Linked DNA regions of Homo sapiens. The protein of the gene in region 5 purifies or fractionates together with the protein of the main gene of each other region. This does not show direct contact. Each region holds a gene or a part of one and is shown on either strand. Other genes may lie near its edges. The genes, in order: CDK8, CAAP1, ACIN1, POLDIP3, RBM33, ZC3H14 and SAFB2.

Evidence for each region.
Region 1: the proteins of RBM33 (region 5) and CDK8 purify together in Homo sapiens (pull-down; one large-scale study listed by IntAct). This does not show direct contact.
Region 2: the proteins of RBM33 (region 5) and CAAP1 purify together in Homo sapiens (affinity purification with mass spectrometry; one large-scale study listed by BioGRID and IntAct). This does not show direct contact.
Region 3: the proteins of RBM33 (region 5) and ACIN1 purify together in Homo sapiens (affinity purification with mass spectrometry; one large-scale study listed by BioGRID and IntAct). This does not show direct contact.
Region 4: the proteins of RBM33 (region 5) and POLDIP3 purify together in Homo sapiens (affinity purification with mass spectrometry; one large-scale study listed by BioGRID and IntAct). This does not show direct contact.
Region 6: the proteins of RBM33 (region 5) and ZC3H14 purify together in Homo sapiens (affinity purification with mass spectrometry; one large-scale study listed by BioGRID and IntAct). This does not show direct contact.
Region 7: the proteins of RBM33 (region 5) and SAFB2 purify together in Homo sapiens (affinity purification with mass spectrometry; one large-scale study listed by BioGRID and IntAct). This does not show direct contact.

What each region holds. Positions count from the first base shown.
Region 1 is NC_000013.11:26,393,629-26,397,128, forward strand, and holds part of CDK8 (cyclin-dependent kinase 8), read left to right. Parts: intron 1-2,656; coding exon 2,657-2,726; intron 2,727-3,500.
Region 2 is NC_000009.12:26,840,803-26,844,302, reverse strand, and holds part of CAAP1 (caspase activity and apoptosis inhibitor 1), read left to right. Parts: intron 1-1,655; coding exon 1,656-2,002; 3' UTR 2,003-3,500. UniProt on the Homo sapiens protein: Anti-apoptotic protein that modulates a caspase-10 dependent mitochondrial caspase-3/9 feedback amplification loop.
Region 3 is NC_000014.9:23,085,137-23,088,636, forward strand, and holds part of ACIN1 (apoptotic chromatin condensation inducer in the nucleus), read right to left. Parts: intron 1-3,500.
Region 4 is NC_000022.11:42,597,884-42,601,383, reverse strand, and holds part of POLDIP3 (polymerase delta-interacting protein 3), read left to right. Parts: intron 1-1,590; coding exon 1,591-1,686; intron 1,687-3,500. UniProt on the Homo sapiens protein: Is involved in regulation of translation. Is preferentially associated with CBC-bound spliced mRNA-protein complexes during the pioneer round of mRNA translation. Contributes to enhanced translational efficiency of spliced over nonspliced mRNAs.
Region 5 is NC_000007.14:155,777,161-155,780,660, reverse strand, and holds part of RBM33 (RNA-binding protein 33), read right to left. Parts: 3' UTR 1-3,500. UniProt on the Homo sapiens protein: RNA reader protein, which recognizes and binds specific RNAs, thereby regulating RNA metabolic processes, such as mRNA export, mRNA stability and/or translation.
Region 6 is NC_000014.9:88,573,037-88,576,536, forward strand, and holds part of ZC3H14 (zinc finger CCCH domain-containing protein 14), read left to right. Parts: intron 1-1,656; coding exon 1,657-1,817; intron 1,818-2,803; coding exon 2,804-2,904; intron 2,905-3,500. UniProt on the Homo sapiens protein: RNA-binding protein involved in the biogenesis of circular RNAs (circRNAs), which are produced by back-splicing circularization of pre-mRNAs.
Region 7 is NC_000019.10:5,616,277-5,619,776, reverse strand, and holds part of SAFB2 (scaffold attachment factor B2), read left to right. Parts: intron 1-3,290; coding exon 3,291-3,355; intron 3,356-3,441; coding exon 3,442-3,500. UniProt on the Homo sapiens protein: Binds to scaffold/matrix attachment region (S/MAR) DNA. Can function as an estrogen receptor corepressor and can also inhibit cell proliferation.

The DNA.
Region 1 (3,500 bases), on a different chromosome or scaffold from region 5:
TTTTGACTTGCATTTATCAAAGATCCGTAGAAACAGCAAAATTTGTAGAGTTTACATATTGGCATGGAAATATTTATGGGTTTCCTGAATTTCAGGACTGTATTTTTGTTTCATCTTGTTTTACTTTTTTGTTTTGTTATTTGGTATTTGAAATGATAAAATATGTTCAATATCTGTATTAAAAAGGTACCTTTAGCTCTTACCAGTAGAAACTATAAATGAATTCAGTAGTAGGAATTTTTTTCTGGCAGCACATATAATACTGCCACTATTTGGCATTCAAATATAAATTTTGAACCTTATTTCTATTTAGGGCACTATACAGAATCACATTATATTGAATAATAGCATTTAAGTCTTCTCTTAGAACAGTCACAATGTGGGTGAGAGTCATAGTACCCTATGGTGAGTTAGCCTGCTGTTTTGCAACAGAGAGATGGTTTACATGTATCCTATCCCTGGTATTAGATCTCTCCAACTGTATCTCAATCCCTAGTTATATTACAGAACGGTAATCACCAAAAACTGCTCAGAGGTCCAGAATAATGAGAATTTGTTTAAAACACCTAAATTTTGGCTAGTCAAGTACTTAGTAGAAAGTGTTTCTTATTAGGAATATTTCTCAGGTCACTATAAACTCAAGACTAATAGAGATAATACCTGGGACTTTTAATTCTACATTCCCTTGTAAGGGTGTTAATTATCAGTAAATGCAGAATAACTACACAGATACTGCCTTTCTCCAAAATTGGTCACCAGTGTGGAGAAGACTTCTGTTGTGATGGGAATTTTATTTATTCAGTAAATATTTATTGAGTACCTGCCATGTGCCAGGCACTGTCTTAAGTAAAAAGTTATTGATGATGTAACAGACATGATTTTTGCCCCCTTGGAGTTTGCATTGTACTGCTATATGTAGAATGTTTAAAAAGTAGGTATGGTTTTGAGTAGAGACAGAAGAATTCTGTTTTCTTCCTGCTTCTGAATGTGTCCACCATTTCTGAGCCCACGGGAAAGGCATAGCTTCTGTGAGGGAGTAGATGTGGTGAAGATGTCTATCAGTGACTCTTAATATGTGGTTCAGAGGTTAGGGTGGTTTATAAGGAAGCTTGGAAAGCAGGCAGCAGAGGTTAGATTTGATAGCTAAAGAATGAGAATCCATCAGTTCTTGAGTACTAGAGACATGCTTTATGTTGCATTTTAGAAAGATTTAGTAAGATGGTGGTAGGTAAAAATCTGTTAAAAAGAGCTAACTGAAATCAGAAACCAGCTGTAGCAGTGCTGCAGACAGAAAGTAGAGTGAAGATAAGGATGGAGAAAAAAGGGCAGATGGAAATGTTTTATAGGAAGTGTATAAGCAAGGGAAAACTAAAGATTATCTTAAAATTTCTAGCATGAGAAATTGATAAAACACAGAAATTGGAGCAAGGAAAATAGTTAAGGAGAAAATTCCATTTAGGAGTGTAGTGTATGTTTAGTTTACAATATGTGATGTCTTTGGAGGATAGTTACCAAATATTTTTACAAGTAAGTTCAAAGAAAAGCAAGCCTCTAAAGGCCATTTAAAAGCTAAAGGTTTTGCGAGGCCGCGGTGGGCGGATCACCTGAGGTTGGGAGTTTGAGACCAGCCTGAACAACATGGAGAAACCCCGTCTCTACCAAAAATACAAAATTAGCTGGGCATGGTGGCTACATGCCTGTAATGTATTACAGGCATGGGATTACATGCCTGTAATCCCAGCTACTCTGGAGGCTGAGGCAGGGGAATCACTTGAACCTGGGAGGCAGAGGTTGGGGTGAGCCGAGATCGCACCATTGCACTCCGGCCTGGGCTGTTAACAAGAGCGAAACTCCGTCTCAAAAAAAAAAAAAAAAGAGCTAAAGGTGCTGTTAAGCTGCCTGTGACAGTCCTTTGCACCTAGTAGACTCTCAGGAAAACCCATTGGCAGATATTGGAGAGAACACATTATGTAGCATGTATTGTTTGAGCAACTTGGATGCCAGCAAAAGTAGCTGAAACGTTTTGTACTTAACGTATTTAGGAGCTGGGGTTGTTTTGGGTAATGTTAACCAGACTAGCCAAGGTACCAGCCCACTTATTAATATACTAATTATATCCTACCCTATTGTGCAAATAGTTATTACCCCTTCTTCCATTGATTGCTTATGTAAAGAAATATATTTAACAAGGTGAAAGGAGGGCTGTATCATAAAAAGAAGTATAGTTTAAAGCCACTGAGGGGAAGATCTTAGATTTCTCATTGAAGAAATTGATTGCTGACTTAACCAAGAAATTTGGTAGAAAAGGGGAAATAAGCAGTTTTACTAATAGAAAGAGGACATTTAATAAGATAAATAGAAATATGTATAACTTATTCTTCTCTAGTGACAGAAATTGAGGCAGCTTATAGTAAAACATACAGAAAGTTTGCAGTTTAAAATTTAAAATATAAACAGATATATAAAGTTATATAAGGGATAAGGAATTATGTTTACACTTCAAGATATTTACTGTTGCTGAACATTTATTTGAAGACAGCTTTTTTGTGTGGAGGTTGAACGGATAGGAAATGTAATGAACGTGGTAATAACCTTTTTAAAAATTCTCAAGAATAGGAACTTAGGCAACATAAAAATTTATCAATGTATTTCACAGATAAAGATTGGGAAGATATAAAAAAGATGCCTGAACATTCAACATTAATGAAAGATTTCAGAAGAAATACGTAAGTTGGAAAAAAAGAGACTCCTTGTTGATTTTTGCTTTACCAGAATACTCAGTGTAAGACTGAATATTCAACATAATAAAATACTCAATATAAGATTACTCTAATAAATAATTTTACTTATTTACTCTAATAAATATTTTTCATGATGACAGTCTTTATTTCTTAAGATGCTTAAATGATTATATACAAAAGTGACTAATATTAGCAGCTGATTTGGATATAAAACAAATTCATGTCTTTCCATATTGACTACTTTTTGGAAGCTAGACATTAGTGAGAAGTATCACAGCTGAATAAATAAGAATCTAAATAAATAAACTTTGGTAATAGCCACTTGCTCACCAATCTAGGTTACAGTAATTTTAAGCAGGTTTTAACAGAGAAGAATGGATATTTCACCTGTTTACAATGCAAAGCCAGGGATTGGGAGAGTTTAGTTTGTATACCTATGACAAAAGTATTTTACACTTATTGGTAAGGCTGAATTAAACTTTTGACCCAGATGTTATTTAAAATAATTGTTAAAATATAATTCATGTGAAAAAAAAAGCTGTTTAGTGTCTGTTATTCATGAAATTGTCTTACATTTAATCATCGGTATCCTTTCAAAAGTGACCATTGTGGATATTGAATGAAATAGAAAACTGATTTAATTCTACTCATTTTATGCTCATAGTGTTTTCAATATATATTTTATATCGGTTATGATCAAAATAATTCTCATCAGAAGGACTTTAGCCAATGTACAATTAACCTCAAGTCTAATATAGC
Region 2 (3,500 bases), on a different chromosome or scaffold from region 5:
TCACCACAACCTCCGCCTCCCAGGTTCAAGTGATTCTCTTGCCTCAGCCTCCCGAGTAGCTGGGATTACAGGCATGTGCCCCTACGCCTGGCCAATTTTGTATTTTTAGTAGAGATGGGATTTCTCCATGTTGGTCAGGCTGGTCTCAAACTCCTGACCCCAGGTGATCTGCCCACCTCAGCCTCCCAAAGTGCTGGGATTACAGGCATGAGCCACTGCACCTGGCCTTATTTTCTTAAATCTATTTTAGTCTCAAGTTAGAATACTTGTATAAAATATTGTTTCTTGAAAGGTTTTATTCAATTTTCTGTAGTTTTTTATGCTATTTGGAAATATTTGTTGCTTTGCGGACATATATAAAATGTTCTTTGCCATCAAATAAAATGATAATCTTATTTTTACAAGTTCTATTTATGGACACAAAAATAATTTTTTGTTTTATTTTCCACTTTAATTTTGGAATGGGGGTGGTTTTTCAATTATAAGCATGTAGGAGGATCACTGAAGGTCAGTAAATCATCATTGATTATAAAACCAATGGAGTATAATTGTTTATGTCCTTCCTGTACAGTCTGTTATCAGAATTTACCATCTGTCAATCTATGTTTTGTAAAGAAGCTTTCCCTACTGTAAGGAAAGCGCTATCAAAGCTTTCTTATATTAGGGAAAGCTAACATTTTGGGGATCATGACTTTTTAAAAAAAAAAACATATTCATGGGTGCAGCACACCAGCATGGCACATGTATACATATGTAACTAACCTGCACATTGTGCACATGTACCCTAAAACTTAAAGTATAATAATAAAATAAAAAGAAAAAAAAGAAAATGCAAGAAAAACACACAAAAAACATATTCAATATTTAAAAGATAAATTAATTAGGAATATAAGTGAGTATTCAAAGTTGCAAATGATGCCTGGAATTGAGTAGTATTCAATGCCAAGAACAAGGTGGTCGAGAACCATAATCTGTGTTTATTTATGTTGTTAGCATCAGTTATAGAAGTTTTATAACAAATGCATTTTTTAAAATTATGGTGAACTAACTTTGTTAATTAAAATCCTCGTCATTAAAACAAATTTTACCTTAGAAAATGGCCTTAGGCATTCTTCTTTAATTTATTGATTTGGAACAAAGTGTTTGAAAAAGCGTATGAAAAGATTGGGATAATTGCAATGCATATGTTGTCCTGCTTGCTGATGATACTTTTTCTTTTTTGTAGTTTATAAAGCAAAGTATTTAAACACCTTCTAGAATGAAATTTTACTGCTTGAATAGTAAGCCATACTGTATCCAGAGGATTTCCAATGTCAGCTTTCATTTTGTAGTGCAGAAGCTTTACTGTGATAAAAATGTTATGACATTTTAATTAGGAAAATAGATCATGGGTACTGCATATGATGGAAGAAATTTCTTAATGTTCCCATGTTCTACTAAATCAGAATGAAAAATACATTTGAATTTACATTACATTAGATCTGCTTTGAAGGTTGAGGAGTCAGGGGAAAAGAGGGTGGCATGGGGATTATGGAATGTGTTTGGGACTCCATAGTGGGAGGTGGGATCAAAGCAGTTTTTAAATTATAAACAGTAAGGAAATTGTGACCCATGGTATTTAGGTTACATGGATCTTTCTCCTTTTTTGGTTACAGGAAAAGGGGAAGATAGTGATGTACTCAGTATAAATGCAGATGCTTATGACAGCGACATAGAAGGCCCATGCAACGAAGAAGCAGCTGCTCCCGAGGCACCAGAAAATACAGTCCAAAGTGAAGCTGGTCAGATAGATGACCTGGAGAAAGACATTGAGAAAAGTGTGAATGAGATTCTAGGACTGGCAGAGTCTAGCCCAAACGAACCCAAAGCAGCCACCCTGGCTGTTCCTCCACCAGAAGATGTTCAACCTTCTGCACAGCAACTGGAGCTGCTAGAACTTGAGATGAGGGCAAGAGCGATTAAAGCCCTAATGAAAGCTGGTGATATAAAAAAGCCAGCCTAGGTATTTAACTTGATTTTGAATTTTAGGTATGTTTGAACAAAGCCACATCATTTAATTTTGTATCTAAAATTTATTTGGGGTCTTATATGTTATTTCTCATGTAACCCTTATTAGGACTCATTTTAGCCCTAAATTACCTGTGGCTGTTTCTTTTTATTTTTTTGACTACTTTTATATTATAAATGTGTGTTACTGTCTTATGAATTCATGGCAATATAGTTGGATAGCCTGGATACTTTGTTAGATGAGTATTTAGCTGTGTCTGCAAATCTTAAAAGCCATTAGCAAAGAGTCGTGGTATTTTTTTCTTTATTTTTAAATGTTTGGGCACCAAACCTAAAAGCAAAAGATTGACGAAGCATGTTTCTCTTAAGGCTACTTGTATTTTACAATACAATATTAAATTATTTAATTTGAGAAATTTAGTTTTGCTTATATGCACTTTTTAAATATATACTATTTTGAAGATTCCTTATGTAAATGCAAATTTCCTAGTTAAAACCGAATAACAGAGATCTGAAATGACTGAGAAAAACTTTTTTATTAAAGGAAGGAATTAATTTAAGGCAATTTTTAACTATGTAGAACTAATTGCCCATGTTTAATTATAGCAGACACGCCATTCTAACAGGTATTTGATACCATTGGATGCATTATTCTAGGTTTTTTCTTTAATAAAAATGGAACAAGTTTTCATTTACATTCCAAGCTGTCAGGAAATGAAGAATATTTTATTATCTAGGATTTTATCTGATGTAGTTGCTTAAAGATCTGATGTGCTATAATTCCATGAATCAGAAATAATAAAATGCTATCATTCTGGATCTGAAGACTTTTGATACTTTTTCAAAAGCAAAATTAATTTCAGGAACCTTTGATAAGTTGTTGTTATAATTAATCTAATTTTGTATAGTTTTTGTAAATAAATTACCATCCTTCCACAATTAGGGATGCTTTTATCCCCCCATCACTAATTGCAGTTGTTTGATACCAAAATAAATTTACGTAGAGATCCTTAACTTAAAATAAATTAATTTTTTCAAAAAACATAAATCTGGAACTGTTGTTTCTATATTTGATAACAAATACAGTATATTTTATTTATAAGCCATGGTCTACTGATACTGTATGAGGACTTTCCTTATATATAAAAGTTGCAGGGATTGTGTTTTATTAGCTGCTTTAATTATGTTAATTTTAGAGAGTTTTTAAATGGAAATAGAGGACATTTATGAAACGCTGGAATTGCAGTTACAAATTCTTTTTGTTGTTGTTGTTCCTGAACATGCCTTGGAATAATTCTACCATTTTTTCCCCCTCCATAAATCTTTCTAATAAAGCATAGAAAAAGCCTATATGATTTTAAATGCTTCTCTTAAGCTGGTAAACAGATTTGAGTTATGAGTTCATTGTTATTGCTTCAAGATGAAAAGACAGTGATATAATTTTTCTATTTCAACTTAAAAGTAATAGTTAATATGCTAAAGTAGTACAGAAT
Region 3 (3,500 bases), on a different chromosome or scaffold from region 5:
TTAAGACCATGGTGAAACCCCGTCTCTACTAAAAATACAAAAAAAAAAATTAGTCGGGTGTGGGGGCGGGTGCCTGCAGTCCCAGCTACTTGGGATGCTGAGGCAGGAGAACGGCGTGAACCTGGAAGGCAGAGCTTGCAGTGAGCAGAGATCGCGCCACTGCACTCCAGCCTGGGCGACAGAGCGAGACTCCATCTCAAAAAACAACAACAACAAGAACAACAACAACAAAGTCAAATAACTGAGTTGCAATTTTAAAATTAGTATGTACAAGCAAAACAGCCTCTTTATCTACCTACTGTGAATTATATGCTATTTATTGAATTATAATGTTATTTTTGATACTGTAAAACTGCAGTGATAGGATTTCTGGATGATTACTCCTCTGGAAGAACTTGTAGTAAGTCATCAAAGAGATCTGGAGAAATGAACAGGGCTGTTCAGAAAGTTCTGGTCATCACTGTTTTGCAATAAAAGCAGAAACTGGAGGCGCCTCAGACATGAAACAAGAAATTAGTCAGCAATGCAAAATATAAAGAGATGAGGAATCTCTAGTTCCTTGGAAAGAGCTGATGTGATGCAGACAAACTTCTGAAAAAGGTGATATCTTCTATTATAAGAACATGGCCACAATGAATGTCTTAGGCCAGATGTTAGTAACACGTGTAGACAGTGAGCGCTTTAGCTAAGGGTGGAGCTGATACTGATAACAGGCTAATAAATACATTTCAGGATTCGAAAAACAAGTCAGGGTAAATATTAGATTTCCAAGAGTCCAAAGCCAGAAGGCTTCACAGAAAGGAAAAGGCAGTTGCTAGACAATGCAGGATATATTAAAGTGCAGAATGTTTAAGGGTTATAGAGGAAATAGTTCTTCATCCTAGAAAACAAATTCCTGGGTAGGATTTGTGGGACCAAAGTAAGGAAGCCAGAGATCGAAGAAAAGCCTGTGGCTAAAAGGTAACCTTAGGTGTGAATAAGAAGCAGGAATGAAGAGAATACAGACCTGGAAACAATGCCAAACCTAAATCTGACTCATGTTAGACCTGTAAGTAAGTTACCTAGCATTTCTCTAGAATTTCCGCATCCAGGTTTTAATATGGAGAAAACGGAATGAGGGGCATACTCTATAAGCCAAAGGCTGGCTAAAATCACCTTTGTTAAAGAATCAATATTCTGAATATGCATTTAAAAATGTATTTTCTTAGTTTGAGCTCTTTTTGAAAAAATTAAGGACGGTAAGAATTTCTGTACACACAGTCATGATATAGAAGGAAATTCAGACAATTTATGACTATGGTAGGTGGATAATGAGTCCTAACACCTTAGAAATATCTGAAGAAAGTGATGGAGACATAAGAGGGAAAGTCAGACAGGATTTTATAAACCAATTATTTCTTTGAGACATGGTTTCACTCTGTTGTCTGCCACCTTGACTGCTAGGGCCCAAGCAATCTTCCCACCTCAGCCTCCCGAGTAGCTGGGACTACAGGCATGTGCCATCACAGTCAGCTAATGTTTTCTATTTTTTTGTACAGATAGGACTCACTATGTTGCTCAGGCCAATCTCCTGGGAGATCCTCCCACCTCAGCCTCCCATAGTGCTAGGATTACAGGTGTGAGACACCACACCTGGACAAACCAATTCTTCCTTCCTATTTGGAATTTTGCCAATAGCATATAAACAGGAGGATGCTGGAATATAAACCAAAGATCTTGATAAATTATAACACTGAAAAACTCTTCCTTCAGTTAGTCATTCATAAAATGAATTGGTCAACAGAACCACTCAGGGACTTTTTAAAAAATGTAGAGCCCCAGGACTCCCATTCCTTGAGATTCTTTGGGTAGGGGCCAGGAATCCATATTCTTAAACATAGTAATATTAAAACAAATAAAAAATCTCCCTCAGGTGCCAGTAGCGTTTAGAAAAATGTTAGTAGGAAACTTAATCAAAAATTGTTATTCAAGAGAGAACCCCAAAACATTCAAAGCCAACAAATAAGCTGCCATTGCAATGGCATACTGGCATATGGCAGACTGAGATTCTATACCTGGAAGAATCTGATTTCTGGACAAACACTAGGGTTAATGCTGATTCAACTAAGCACTGATAGAATTCCAAATGGCCACTCCATTCAGGACCTTAACTAAATTTTGTACAACATCTATAATGGGATTCTTATCTAAGCCAAGATCAGAGGTAGAAAAGTTTATGGCATAAAGGACACTGAAGAGCATTTACGGCAATTATGAGCAGTACTCTACAATTTACCACATTCATATTTTCCAATTTATTTTTCACCTTTTTTTTTTTTTAACGTCTGGGGTTTTTTTTTTCCTCCATCAATCATTAGCCATGGGCAGGGTCTTACTGATGACATAAAGCACTGAAAAGATTGGCTACCCTTACTCTAAATCTTTGCTTTTGAAATCTATTTCAGAAATCATTTCTCATTTTCATTTCGAATTATATTAAGAACTGACAGCCTCTCTTTTTAAAGAGAGGTCCTTATCAAATCATGGTCCTATTAAGAATTTTCAATGGTTCCCCCATTACCTATAGAACTAAAAAAAAAACCCTCATACTTACTGGCCTGGCATTTAAAGCCCTCTGTGTATCACCCTCATCTACCTTTTAAATTGTTTTGCTGACTATTCTTGAATGTGAAATACTCTACTCTGGCTAGATTAGTCTACTACCTCTCCTTTAAAAATACCATTTTCATTCCTATCTCTCTGACTTTGTTCCTTCCTAAAAATATCTTCTTGTATCCTCTCTGCCAAACCATTTCTAAGGCTCAGCTCAAATCCTGTATCTCCTTATGAGGCTTTCTCTAATCACTGTAGTCCTCAGAGCTCTTCCACTCTTTTGGTTCCCTATGTCTGTATCATTGTCACATACTATCTTCTGTTGTTCGATTTATGTGTAATTGTTCTCTCTTCCTAACAGACTTTATGCTGTGCTAACTCCCAATATACTCTCACAGAGATATGTATGCAGTAGGAATTCAATAAATTTTTTTTTGTTTTATGTGAGAAGAAATACCGACAATTTTAGAAGAGCTTTCTCTTTCCTCTCGGCTTTAAAATCAAGGGGGAAAGGGCGCAGGGAGCAAAGTGGATCAGCTGAGGGTCTACTACTCTCGTATTTCAGGAGAAAAGAGGTCCCTAAGGAACTTAATAATTCCAAAGTATTGGCCAGTATTTTCTTACTAAAAGATTTCTAGAAATGTCTTTCTGGGTCTAAGACTAGGATCAAGAAAAACAGGGACTGAGTAAAACAGGACCTTAAAACTAGACTCAAAGGCTCTCTATTTTCTCTAGCCTTTTGGAAAATTTCTTTCCCACCATTAAATGTCTCCTAAAAAATCTATTTCCATGAAGAGTCTATCGCTGCTCAGCCTTTTAACTAAAATCAAGTGTAGTCCATGAAGGAATTCTGTATTAATCAGAAGAGCTGGAAACCTCCATACATCCTAAAAACACTGATTATGGTG
Region 4 (3,500 bases), on a different chromosome or scaffold from region 5:
TTTTGTCTTTTGTTTTGTTTTTTTTTCCTTTTTCTGGAGAACGGGGTCTCGCTATATTGCCCAGGCAGGTCTCGAACTCCTGGGCTCAAGCTATCCTCCCGCCTCTTAGCCTCCCTGAGAGCTGGGATTACAGGTGTGAGCCACCGCGCCCGGCCTAATTTTTTTAAATAAAAGTTCTATGTGCTTAATATAGAAAACTTGCCAAAAAGTCCCTCAAGTTCCTATTCTCCAAAGCCAGTCACTGTTGAAATTTTGCCATAGTTCCTTACATGTACGCTTCTTTTTTTTTGATACAGGGTTTCACTCTGTCCCCCAGGCTGGAGTGCAGTGGTGCAGTCATGGCTCACTGCAGCCTTGAGTTTCTGGGCTCAAATGATCCTCCCACCTCAGCCTCCTGAGTAGCTGGGATCACAGGTGCATACCACCACATCTGGCTAATTTTTGTAGAGATGGAGTCTTGTCATGTTGCCCAGGCTGGTCTCGAACTCCTGGGTTCAATCGATCCTCCTGCCTCTGCCTCCCAAGTAGCTGGGATTACAAGCATGAGTCACCGCGCCTGGCTAATTTTGTATTTTTAGTAGAGACGGTGTTTCTCCATGTTGGTCAGGCTGATCTCGAACTCCTGACCTCAGGTAATTCGCCCACCTTGGCCTCCCAAAGTGCTGGGATTACAGGCGTGAGCCACTGTGCCCAGCCCCAGTCTGTTTTTTACTTAACTCATAGTTGTGGTTGTGGTTATATATTCTTTTTTTTTTTTTGAGACCGAGTCTCGCTCTGTCACTCAGACTGGAGTGCAGTGGCACGATCTCGGCTCACTGCAAGCTCCGCCTCCCGGGTTCACACCATTCTCCTGCCTCAGCCTCCCGAGTAGCTGGGACTACAGGCGCATGCCACCATGCCCGGCTCATTGTTTGTATTTTTCGTAGAGACGGGGTTTCACCATGTTAGCCAGGATGATCTCGATCTCCTGACCTCGTGATCCGCCCTCCTCGGCCTCCCAAAGTGCTGGGATGACAGGCTTGAGCCACTGAGCCCAGCCATGGTTATATTCTTATCCAATTTTGTATCATTCTTTTTTCACTTTGTAACTCAAGCATTTCTCTGTGACATTTCATATTTACTGTACATGTTTTAGTAACTGCAAAATCTATATAGTTGGCATTCCAGTTTTATTTAAACCATTTTCCTGTCATTTTCACTGTTAGAAATCCTTCTGCTGTGAACATCTTTGTAAATAAAGCTCTTTCTAGGGTTTGGATTTATTTCTGTAGGTCATATTAACAAGGATGGACTTTCCAAGCCAAAGGATATAAAGAAACATTTTAGGGACTCTTGGTACATACTGCCCACTGGGAAAAAGGGACTTCTGATGTATCTGGAAGTTGTAGGACTTTCACTGGGTCCTTGCTGACAGGGAGTTAGCCTGTGAAGACTTGGGCCCCAGTCTTTCCAGGCACCGTCACCCCTGTGCCCACTTCTCCTTGGTCCCTTTGTTTCTCCAGCAGCCATTTCCTTGCCATGCCTGTTCTAGATGTCTGTTGAGGGCCCAGATGCCACATTTGCTTATATTTCTTTATGTTATATTCTCAGAATTTATATGACCTGGATGAAGATGATGATGGTATAGCTTCCGTTCCTACTAAACAGATGAAGTTTGCAGCCTCAGGCGGCTTTCTCCACCACATGGTATGGCATTTCATGTTTTCTTACACTGCGTGTCTGATCAGGCAGGTGGGAGAGGTCGTGTTGAATAGAACCTGTTGTTTTTTTTGTTTTGAGACGACATCTCGCTCTTCTCCCCCAGGCTGCTGGAGTGCAATGGCGCAATCTTGGCTCACTGCAACCTCCGTCTCCTGGGTTCAAGCTATTATCCTGCCTCAGCCTCCCTAGTAGCTGGGATTACAGGCGCCTGCCGCCACGCCCAGCTAATTTTTGTATTTTTAGTAGAGATGAGGTTTCACCATGTTGGCCAGGCTGGTCTCAAACTCCTGACCTCAGGTGATCCGCACGCCTCGGCCTCCCAAGGTGCTGGGATTACAGGCGTAAGCCACTGCGCCCGGCGTGAATAGAGCCTTTCAATGCAGAAATATTTCTTTGTTTGGGCCGTAAGATTTTCAGAGCTGGAACTAGTCCATTCCCTTAGTTTTATAAACGCTGAGACACTGGGGTGCCTTCTGATTTGTTCAAGGTCCCACAGCAAGTGAAGTACAGGGCTGCAGCTCCTAGGTGCTGTGTTTGAGACACTATAGGGAAAGTGTGAGTGATCCCACAGTGGGGAGTCTGTGTTCTTTCCTTGGTGGCTGGCCATTCTGCATGCTTCGTAACCCTTTGTGGTCAGCAGCTCTGGCGCTGCTCTTGGAGTCTGGATTCCGTTGGTTAACATTAGCAGGAATACATCTCACCTGATCTGTGGGCTCTACCAGGTGCAGCCTGCATGCAGGGAAAGCTTGCTAGGCTAGAGTGTTGGTCAGACATCATGCAGAGAAGGAAAGAAAACAACATCTGGGATCATCAGGGAGGTCCATGCTGCTCAGCTCAGTGGTACAGCCAAGTGTCAGACAGGGAGGCCAGTGGGCTGCCTAGGTGGGTCCTTGTGGCAGCCACCTCTTTTGTTTTTCCTTCAGACGCTCAAAGACTCAGTTTTGGTTACTGTCCTGAGTATGTGGACCAGCCTCCTGGTTAGTAATTAAGAGAAATATGGGCCAGGTGCGGTGGCTCACGCCTGTAATCTCAACACTTTGGGAGGCAGAGGCGGGCAGATCACAAGGTCAGGAGATGGAAACCATCCTGGCTAGCACGGTGAAACCACGTCTCTACTAAAAAATACAAAAAAGTTCGGGCGTGGTGGCTCACGCCTGTAATCCCAGCACTTTCGGAGGCCGAGGTGGGTGGATCACGAAGTCAGGAGATCGAGACCATCCTGGCAAACATGGTGAAACCCCGTCTCTACTAAAAATACCAAAAAATTAGCCAGGCGTGGTGGTGTGCGCCTGTAGTCCCAGCTACTCTAGAGGCTGAGGCAGGAGAATGGCACGAACCCAGGAGGTGGAGCTTGCAGTGAGCCAAGAGGCGCCACTGCACTCCAGCCTGGGCGACAGAGCGAGACTCTGTCTCAAAAAAAAAAAAAAAAAAAATATCCGGGGTGTGGTGGCGGGCACCTGCAGTCCCAGCTACTCGGGAGGCTGAGGCAGGAGAATGGTGTGAACCTGGGAGGCAGAGCTTACAGTGAGCCGAGATTGTGCCACTGCACTCCAGCCTGGGCGACAGAGTGAGACTCTGTCTCAAAAAAAAAAGAAACATGAAGCTGGCTCGGCGTGGTGGCTCACGCCTGTAATCCCAGCACTTTGGGAGGCTGAGGTGGGCAGATTACCTGAGGTCAGGAGTTGGAGACCAGCTTGGCAACATGGTGAAATCCCGTCTCTACTAAAAATAAAAAATTAGCTGGGCATGATGGCGCGTGCCTGTAATCCCAGCTGCTCGGGAGGCTGAGGCAGGAGAAT
Region 5 (3,500 bases):
GGAGAGGAGCATGGAAAGCCAGGGAGATGGGAAGGTCTGAGAGAGTGAGTCTTGGAATGGGACAGGAGCTACCAGTGTTAAGAATGGTAGATGGGTTTAGCCAGGAAAGCAAAACAGAAATGGACAGAGAGGGAGAGCCCAGAGCATGGCATGGTGAGGTGATCCCATTACTAAATGAACAGTAGCAAGAAGCAGGCACGTGGAGCAAACAGAATCAGCTCAGACATGAAAAAGGTCACACTCTGTGCTTTGCTGCTGTGGTACCTGAAAATTAAACAGTGGAATTAAAGCCCCAGAGTTCAAGTCCTCACAGAGGACACCATCCTGGATCCCACGCCTGTGAAAAGCAAAGCTGGATTATAGAAACGAGCGGTGGCTTTTTTTGCTCCTTCGGCTCAGGGCACCCCTGTGTGCTGTGCGCGCGTTATTGAAAATGTTACCCACCTAAGAAAAGACTACAGAACGCATACAGCTAGAACGCATACAGCTTACACAGTCCTTGCAAAACCAGCTTCCGCCACGGGTGCCCTTAAAATGAAAAGCAGTTTAAAAGAAAATCATGCTAAAAGAATGCATGAGGTCTACTTTCTAGAGTATATTAAATTATTAAATACAGAATACATTACAATAGTACCTGTCTGCCTATCCACTCTATGGAACATATTAAAATAAAAAACTACATGCTGTTTCTTTTTAAAGGCCTACATTTTTCTATATACCTTTTAAAATCAGTAAAATAAAACCAAGCAAAATATCAACATGAAGACCTCCTTCTCTTTTAGTTGGTTAGAAGTCAAAGGAAAAAGCAAGTACTCAGAAGTGTCTCACTAAAATACCTGTTCCGTCCGCCAATCTTAAAGATTTCCTACCAAAACATGACACAGAAAAGAGAGAGTTGAGACATTAAAAGCATTTTCTAGCCAAGGCAGGTTACAATGTGTGAGGCAAACGGCCTTTTCCAGCCATATGCTACCAGCAGAAGGTATACCTGGGGATCCAATATGAATCAGTGAGTTCCGCTTTAGTTCCAGTACACAAACCACGGGCTTATGCACCTCAGAAGTTAGGCATTTAAAAAAAATTAAATAGGTTGCAAAAAAACCTTACATAAAATCCTTAGGATTTAATATTAAGTCAAGGCTAAATGCCTTTGGAGAATTCATATTTAAGAATGTCCAAAATAACACTCCATTCACAAACTTTAAAAATAGCTGAAAAAGTTAACTGAAATGCTCTTTAAATACACTAAAGTATCTAAGCCTCTCCCTAGTCGATCTGGACTAGCGGCTTTCCGAGTGGTGGTAGTCGGGTGCCTCCGAACCTTTCCTGCCCTGCACACACTCCTATCAGTCAACTCCCTGGTAGAATCGTCACCTCTAATTTTTTGAAAAACCAATAATACCTTTCGAGCTTTCTCTCGCCCACCCCCCTCCCTCCCACTCCAAATTAAAAAAAAAAAAAATGGGGTGGAGGATCATAGCTTAATGAAGGGAAGCCAACCTGGGTCTAAAAGCGATTACGTCAAGCCATAGCTGAGGCCTACAAGTAGGGAGGGAGGGTAATAAAAAAACGAATCCCAGGAAGAGCACCACGAAAGCGGGAAGCCTGAAGTCACCCACAAAGGGCACTGCAGACACCGCACCAGGAATGTTTCTTAAGAGCTGGCAGTCCTCTCCAGGGAGAGAGCAGAGGAGGGGAACAGCCGCAGGGACTAGAGAGTTTCTAGGACTCCACGATGTGCCGGCACAGCATGCTGCCATCACACACGCTGACCTCCTTGTCCTGTGCAATTACATGACTAGGACCTGCCTTCGACAAGCGTCTGATGGTCTATGAGCACATTCCGCTTACCTTCCCAATAAAATAACAAAGAAATACAAAACAAAACAAACAGAACAAAACAAAAACAACAAAAGCCAAAAGAAAACAAGTGATGAGTGATGAGTTCTTCAAACCCATCCCAGGACAAGGCTCCAGGGCCTCGGGGGTCCCTCACCTGCCCTACCTGAACTGTCCCAGCTGATCACCACCCAGTGAAGACGTTCCCCTCCCCCACTCCTCCAGGCCATCCAGCGGATGCCCCTGTGCCGCCAAACACCCTGGCCCAAGGGCTCTCAACTCCACCGACCGGACTGGATGACCTCCCCTGATAAGCCAGTGTGTTAGAAGCAAGTTGATTATTAACACTGAGATGACAGCTTCCCCAATCCCCAGGCCTCTCCTCACCTGGGTCTGTCCATCCCTTCCTCCTTTTCACCCTAAACTCCTCTTCCACCTCCTTCAGTAACAAAGCCTTCTGTTCACAGAACTGAGCAAGATGCTGTTTGAAAAAAAGACCCCTGGGTGCAGGATCTAAGCTCTGCCACAATTCAGAAATGCCACAGAAGCAAGCTTCAACAACTGTTTGCCTGAGACCTTTACAAATCATGCTAAGAATGACCCATATTAAAAATAGTTATGGTGAAGCCACCTCCCGCCCCATCCCATCTCCTCCAGCAAGGCAGGGTGCGGGTGCCTACGGAGGCTGCTGCCTGTCCACAAAACAGAGAAACCCCTCAAAATTTGTCTGGAAAAATGATGAGATTTACTCTTTAGAAGAATATCAGTATAAGGATTTAACAAACGTGGCCAGACCAGTGGTAATGCAAGGTTATCTAAAGTAGCTAAGTGAACTTCTATTACAGCACAAAACCAAAACAAGATAATGCAAAAAGAAAAGAAGTAACTTGGCTCCACATAATCAGCTATTGGTTTACCTTATGAGATACTGATATTTACGACCTTTAAGCTTCTTGAATTTGTGAACAAATAATACACAGATCAGGATAAATGTATTGACTTACTACCATCTTTATAAAAATCGAATATACACACAAACACATCAACAACTGTGGAACTGTATCCATTAAACTTTGATAAGACAACACAAAGAACTAATAGCTAAGATGTGGCTGAGTTGAAAGCACTTCCAATAGTATTTTAATTTTAAAAGGTCCATATTTACATGGTATGCTAAATGCTCTTGCATCTCATTTTAAATGCATGATGAACTCAAGAACAAAGATAATGGTTGCAGCAGATCTTCCACGAGGGTTTGGCTGGTGTGGGCTGACTTCACGTGAGCAGCATACCAAACACCTAAGTACCATTCCTTTCTCATTCTGCTTCTTTCCTTTTCTGTAGTTTCCTTCAAGGAAACTAAACCTTCATTACTGGGATTGTCTGGTACTAAGAATCCATTTTCGATGGTTGTGGGTATTGAGTGAGGTCGGACTGTGTTGGACTGTTCTAATCAGCGCTTTAAGGCGGGCCTGCATGACTTTGCCAATCACCTTTCAAGAACATTCTATGAGAAAGTCTGCCTATGTGCACGTGTAGACAGTTAGAGAAACACGCACACCCCAGGGCCTGTGTCACACTCAGGTAACACCAAAACAGACCTTCCAGTGGCCATGAAGTCCACCTTAACAATGAAGGCCCAAACAGGATCCGTTTTATTA
Region 6 (3,500 bases), on a different chromosome or scaffold from region 5:
GGCTAAAAATCGGCAGTTCTTGATACCAAATAATATATGAAGTAACTAAACACATATTCCAAGGCTGGGCACAGTGGCTCACACCTGTAATCCCAGGACTTTGGGAGGCCGAGGCGGGTGGATCACGAGGTCAGGAGATTGAGACCATCCTGGCTAACACGGTGAAACCCCGTCTCTACTAAAAATACAAAAAATTAGCCAGGCATGGTGGCAGGCGCCTGTAGTCCCAGCTACTCGGGAGGCTGAGGCAGGAGAATGGCGTGAACCTGGGAGGCGGAGCTTGCACTGAGCCAAGATCGTGCCACTGCACTCCAGCCTGGGCAACAGAGCGAGACTCCGTCTCAACCAAAAAAGAAAAAACAAAAAACAAAAAAAACACATATTCCAAATTTATTTTATTTTATTTTACTTTTTGAGAAGGAGTTTCACTCTTGTTGCCCAGGCTGGAGTGTGATGGCGCGATCTCAACTCACTGCAACCTCCACCTCCTGGGTTCAAGCGATTCTCCTGCTTCAGCCTCCCGAGTAGCTGGTATTACCCGCCACCATGCCTGGCTAATTTTTTGTATTTTTAGCAAAGACAGGGTTTCACCGTGTTGGCCAGGCTGGTCTTGAAATCCTGGCCCTGTGATCCACCCACCTTGATCTTGGCTCACTGCAACCTGTGCTTCCCAGGTTCAAGTGATTCTTCTGATTCAGCCTCCTGAATAGCTGGGATTACAGGTGTGTACTACCACGACCAGCTAATTTTTGTATTTTTAGTAGAGATGGTGTTTCACCATGTTGGACCAGGCTGGTCTTGAACTCCTGACCTCAGGTGATCTGCCCTCCTTGGCCTCCCAAAGTGTTGGGATTACAGGCATGTACCATGGCGCCTGGCCCCAAGTTTATTTTTAAATTGTTTTATCTGCTGTTTCTCATGCTATACCAGATTTTCTTCCCCATGGCTTGCTCCTAGAGTTCTTTTGTATCACATCTGTATACCTTTTTGGGATTTCCAGCATTTGAGATATTAATCTTAAATTAATTTGGGGGGTTTCAATCAATTTTAGATTGTTCATGGTAATTGCTAGTGAGCAACCAATTAACTCTGTTTTATTAGTTTCCTCAATAGCACTATATGCAGCTGTTGATAAAATAAATGTAAAGTTCTAATTTTTGTTTTAGCTAAAGGTTGACTGTTAGGGATAATATTTATATTTATAGTATTTATTTATTTATTTATTTTGATACGGTGTCTCACTCTGTCGCCCAGGCTGGAGTGCAGTGGCATGATCTTGGCTCCCTACATCCTCCACCTCCCGGGTTCAAGTGAGTCTTCTGCCTCAGCCTCCCGAGTAGCTCGGACTACAGGCACATGCCGCCACGCTCAGCTAATTTTTGTATTTTTATAGAGACAGGGTTTCACCATATTGGCCAGGCTGGTCTCGAAATCCTGACCTTGTGATCCGCCCACTTCGGCCTTCCAAAGTGCTAGGATTACAGATGTGAGCCACCACACCCAGCCTCATATTTATATTTTTACATAAAACCAAGAAATACTCTGTGAATTTCTCATATTACTGTGTACTGTTTTTTTCTTAAAATGGAAACATTTTGTGGTAGAACTCTTGTTATTTTCTGAGATTAGGTAAGCATAAATTTTATCTGATTGCAGGATGAAAACTTTCGGAAGAGAAAGTTGCCTGTGGTAAGTTCAGTTGTTAAAGTAAAAAAATTCAATCATGATGGAGAAGAGGAGGAAGAAGATGATGATTACGGGTCTCGAACAGGAAGCATCTCCAGCAGTGTGTCTGTGCCTGCAAAGCCTGAAAGGAGGTACCTTGAACATGGCTGTAAATTAATCTTTAACTGCCTTGGTGGAGTCTTCCTGATTTATTGAAGAGAATAATCACGAAAATAATTTTTGTTTGTTTTTTGAGACGGAGTCTCGCTCTGTCAACCAGGCTGGAGTGCAGTGCCACGATCTCGGCTCACTGCAACCTCTGCCTCCCAGGTTCAAGTGATTCTCCTGATTGAGCCTCCTGAATAGCTGGGATTATAGGTGTGCACTACCATGACCAGCTAATTTTTGTATTTTTAGTAGAGATGGTGTTTCACCATGTTGGACCAGGCTGGTCTCGAACTCCTGACCTCAGGTGATCTGCCCTCCTCAGCTTCCCAAAGTGTTGGGATTACAGGCATGAGCCACCGCACCTGACATAAATATTTAATGTAATACCGTGTAAGACTTTTCCATTGGGTTTTGAGAAACACGTTAATGAGAGAAATTGCTTAACATTGGAGAGGATTGCAGAGAATATTGACTAATATGGTGGGGTGAGGAGGAACAACATCAATTAAGATTCAGATTTATTATTTAAAAAAACTAAAAGGGGCCTAGGCATGGTGGCTCATGCCTGTACCTAGCACTTTGGGAGGCTGAGGCAGGAGGATTGCTTGAGACCAGGAGTTCGAGACCAGCCTGGGCGATGTAATGAGTCTTTGTCTCTTAAAAAAAATTAAAATAAATTAGTTGGTCATTGTGGCAGGCACCTGTAGTCCTGGACTGGAGAGGTGGATGTGGAAGCATTGCTTGAGCCTAGAAGTTTAAGGCTGCAGTGACATCACACTCCATCCTGGGTGAGAGAGTAAGAGTCTGTCTAAAAAAAAAAATAAGGTTCCAGTGTAGTTGGCATTTTCTAAAAACTGCAGCTAGTCTGTTTAAAACCTAGAGAAGGTTGTGGTAAAGGCATAATAGATGGCTGGCCTGTGAGGAACTGAAATTTAAAGTTTAATAAAAATACCTTTCTTAACTCTTTTAGACCTTCTCTTCCACCTTCTAAACAAGCTAACAAGAATCTGATTTTGAAGGCTATATCTGAAGCTCAAGAATCCGTAACAAAAACAACTAACTACTCTACAGGTAATTTAAATGTATTATGTTTACACTTGGTAAGACATTTCTGTAATTCTTGAGTAAGGTGAAAATGATTGCTCCTTAAATTGTAAAATAAAGGTGCCTGTCAGATGTCAAGACCAAGATGAGGTTCCCATATAGAAAAATGGCTTTAAAAGGAAATTGACAAGTTTGAGAAACTTCGCCAACTGTTATTGGACTGTAGTTTTTCAAGCACCATATAATGCCTTTTATATCTTTCCAATGTGTGTAAAATATATAGTACGTAAATATTTTGAAGAGAATTTTGATGAAGTAGGACTTTCATATTAGTAGCATTAGATTCAACATTAGATATGAATTTACGATGTGTAAAGGGGAGTACAATTGGACAATGATAGGTATCTGAAGTTATAGAAATTTGTTAAACAGTAGTATATAAACAAGGTTGGTTTCTTCCCTTTTGGCGGAACTCATTAGTAGAATATAAGGCAGAGAATTGACTCATTTGTGATGTTCCTGCTCCAATTCTAGTGGAAGTACTGAATAATTTTATGAGAGAATATAAAAGTATTACGTTTTCAAAACAGGAGATGAATCAGCTGTAAGCTGGTCTTACGGAA
Region 7 (3,500 bases), on a different chromosome or scaffold from region 5:
GCCTCCCGGGTTCAAGTGATTCTTGTGCCTCAGCCTCCTGAGTAGCTGCGATTACAGGTGCCCGTCGCCACGCCCAGCTACTTTTTTATATTTTTAGTAGAAACGTGGTTTCACCATCCATGTTGGCCAGGCTGGTCTCGAACTCCTCACCTCAGGTGATCCACCCGCCTGGGCCTCCCAAAGTGCTGGGATTAGAGGCATGAGCCACTGTGCCCGGCCTAGCAGGGATCATTTCTAATGATCTTTGCATCATTAGAAAAACTAAACTTTAGCTGAGTGCTTTGAAGACCTGCCTGAATGTCTAGATTAAAGCTTAGGTGGATTCAAAACTACTTGGAGTTAGTGTTTTGTCAGGAAAGCTTGGATGATAAAGTTCTTCTGTTGCTATAAAAAGGACTTTTGTAGCCTCAGCTCTAGTGAGGGTTAGAAGGGCTTCTGATCCCTTCCCATTCCTTTTTCAGAGAAGTAACCAAGCCCAGAGAGAGCCCAGGTCTTCAGGTGGTGCTCAGGCCCTGCAGGCCTCATCTTCCATCCTGAGCTGGTGATGTTCTCTAGAGGTGTCGGGGCACGTGGCTAATGGATAAAGCACAAGAGCCTTAGGACTTTGTGGTTGCAGTTAGGGCCTGTGATTACATACAACTGTTAGATCAGGAGGAATTCACCAGTTAATTTTCGTTTCAAGCACTATGCAGCAGTGTTCAGTTGAGTCCAAAGTTGGACTCATTCTGGGAACTCACCAGTAACTGCTTCCTTGCAAAAACTGAAGTAGCCAAACTTGTTGAGGGAAAAGTGTCCTCATTATAAATCAGAGTAAGGGTCTTCACCAAGATTAGGAGTCCTAGGCAACATTGTAGGTGGGTTTGGAAAAAATAAAACTTGGATTAAAAATTTAAGTTTTAGATGCCATGTGGGATTAAAGTTGGATTTTCTTACATCTGTGTCCCCAGCAGCGGCAGCTTTTCGTTGGCCAATGCCAGGTGCCGGGGATTGGGGCGTCGCCTGTCTGCGCCACATTAGCTTTTCTGTGATGCTTTTTGGTCAGCATTTCTCCTATTTCCGGCCTATGTGGGCACTGCAGGCTACTATTTAGGGGCCTAGAAATTGGGTGCAATTACCAAACATTTTTAGACAACGTATTTCAAAAGGATATGCTGTGTTTAGATATAATGCGAAGTGGGACAGCTGAGTTTTAGAGTGCCAGCTTTGGAGCTCAACCAAATTCTCGTGTCAAATGCAGATAATAAAACCTGCTAGCGTTGTTAGGCGTCTTAAATGATAGACTGGAAAAAGCTCACGTTGCGAGACATGCAATTAAACTGCATTTCTTGAGTGATTATTGATAATAGTGGTGAGTGAGACTCTTGAGGTGTAGACCCTGCAGGTTTTTTATGTTTAATTTTCTTTCTTTTTTTTTTGAGACGGAGTCTCGCTCTGTTGCCCAGGCTGGAGTACAGTGGTGCAATCTCGGCTCACTGCAAGCTCCGCCTCCCGGCTTCAGGCCATTCTCCTGCCTCAGCCTCCCGAGTAGCTGAGACTACAGGCGCCCGCCACCACGTCCGGCTGTTTTTCTATTTTTAGTAGAGACGGGAAAGTATGTATTTTTTTCTGTTTGATTTTTCTTTATCGGTGTGTATGTTAGAGAGACTCGGTCTTACTCTGTTGCCCAGAGCGGAGGGCAGTGGCATGATCGTGGCAGCCTCAAGCTCTCAGGCTCGGAGCATCCTCCCACCTCATTCTCACCGGTAATTCAGAGTACAGGTACATAACACCATGCCTGGCTAATTTTTGTATTTTTGGTGGAGATGGGGGTCTCACTTTGTTGCCCGAACTTGTCTCTTAATTCCTAGGCTCAAGCGAGCCACCTGCCTTAGCCTCCCAAAATGCTGGGATTACAGGCGTGAACCACTGTGCCTACACTGTGGGCATTTTTTCTGTTTCATTAAATATTCTTTAAAAGCATACATTCTTTAAATATTGTGAGACATTGGATGGTGTCCCACAGGGTTTCTCAGCATTGGCACTGTTGACAATTTGGGCCGAAGAATTCTCTGGGGTTGGGGAGTATCCTGTGCATTGCAGGGTCGTGACCAGCATCACTAGCTACTGATGCTAATGGCGTTCCCCCAGGTCATGACCACTAACAATGTCTCCAGACATTGCCAGCCATTCCCCCCGGTTGTGAACCATATCTGAATGAAAATATGCTGTAATTTGTTTCCCTTTTGGGTGTTTAACAGGTATAATAGGACAGATATCTATGTTTTGAACTCCTTGTCAGATATCCTAAGACTCAAATTCCTGGAACAAAGGGTATGCACATTTGTAAGGTTTTTGATACATATAGAGCCTCAAGTTTCTTCTCAAGGTTTCCACTCTTGAACTCCTCTGGCCTCCTTTTGCAATTCCTAGCAGAATTCTATCAAATAGTTATTTTGTGGTCACAAAACCCAGGATGATTCTCGACTTTATGGCAGCCTTTGCCTTTTTGCCTTGGGGGAAAAAAAAAAGTTCTTGAGCTAAAAAATGACAAAGACCTACTTGAAATGGGTGGAATATAGGGAGAGCCAGCAAATCACTAACTCAATATGTTATTTTATGTTGCAGTTCTTTGGTTACTAGATGGGTATTGCATTTTTTTGTTGGTTTGTTGAAAATGCCTGTTTTTATCCTTTGCTCATTTTTTTGTGATTTTTTTTCTTAGGTTTGGAGTGTTTTTGAAATATTTGGAAACTTTTAGATATTTTGTGGAAAATCAGAGTACTCTGAATCTAAGAGGAATCCTAGATTTTCATCTCCCTGTTGATGGCTTACTTAGAACACCAATTGAGGCCGGGCACCATGGCTCATGCCTGTAATCCCAGCACTTTGGGAGACCGAGGCTGGTGGATCACGAGGTCAGGAGTTTGAGACCAGCCTGGCCAATATGGTGAAACCCCATCTCTACTAAAAATACAAAAATAAGCTGGGCATGGTGATGCACGCCTGTAGTCCCAGCTGCTGAGGAGGCTGAGGCAGGAGAATCGCTTGAACCCAGGAGGTGGAGATTGCAGTGAGCCGAGATTGTGCCGCTGCACTCCAGCCTGGGTGACACAGGGAGACTCCATCTCAAAAAAAAAAAAAAAAAAAAAAAAAAGAAAACAAATTGAGACAAAATTACGTGTGACAGGAGAGGGGAGACTTATAGTTTATCTTGTAATGTGTTCTGTTCTAAGATTGAAATCTATTCTGCATAAACTAATTATGAGGTAGAACTTGAGTGTTATCTGATTGAACAATTATTCTGTAATTAGGACTGAAGATGGAGGAGGAAGGCACAGAAGATAATGGCCTGGAAGACGATTCCAGAGACGGGCAGGTAAGTGATGTCAGGGTAGAGATGACAAGCAGCAGCTCCCTGTCCTGGTCCAGGTGGTCGTTAACGATTCTTCTTCCTCTTTACAGGAGGACATGGAAGCAAGTCTGGAGAACCTGCAGAATATGGGCATGATGGACATGAGTGT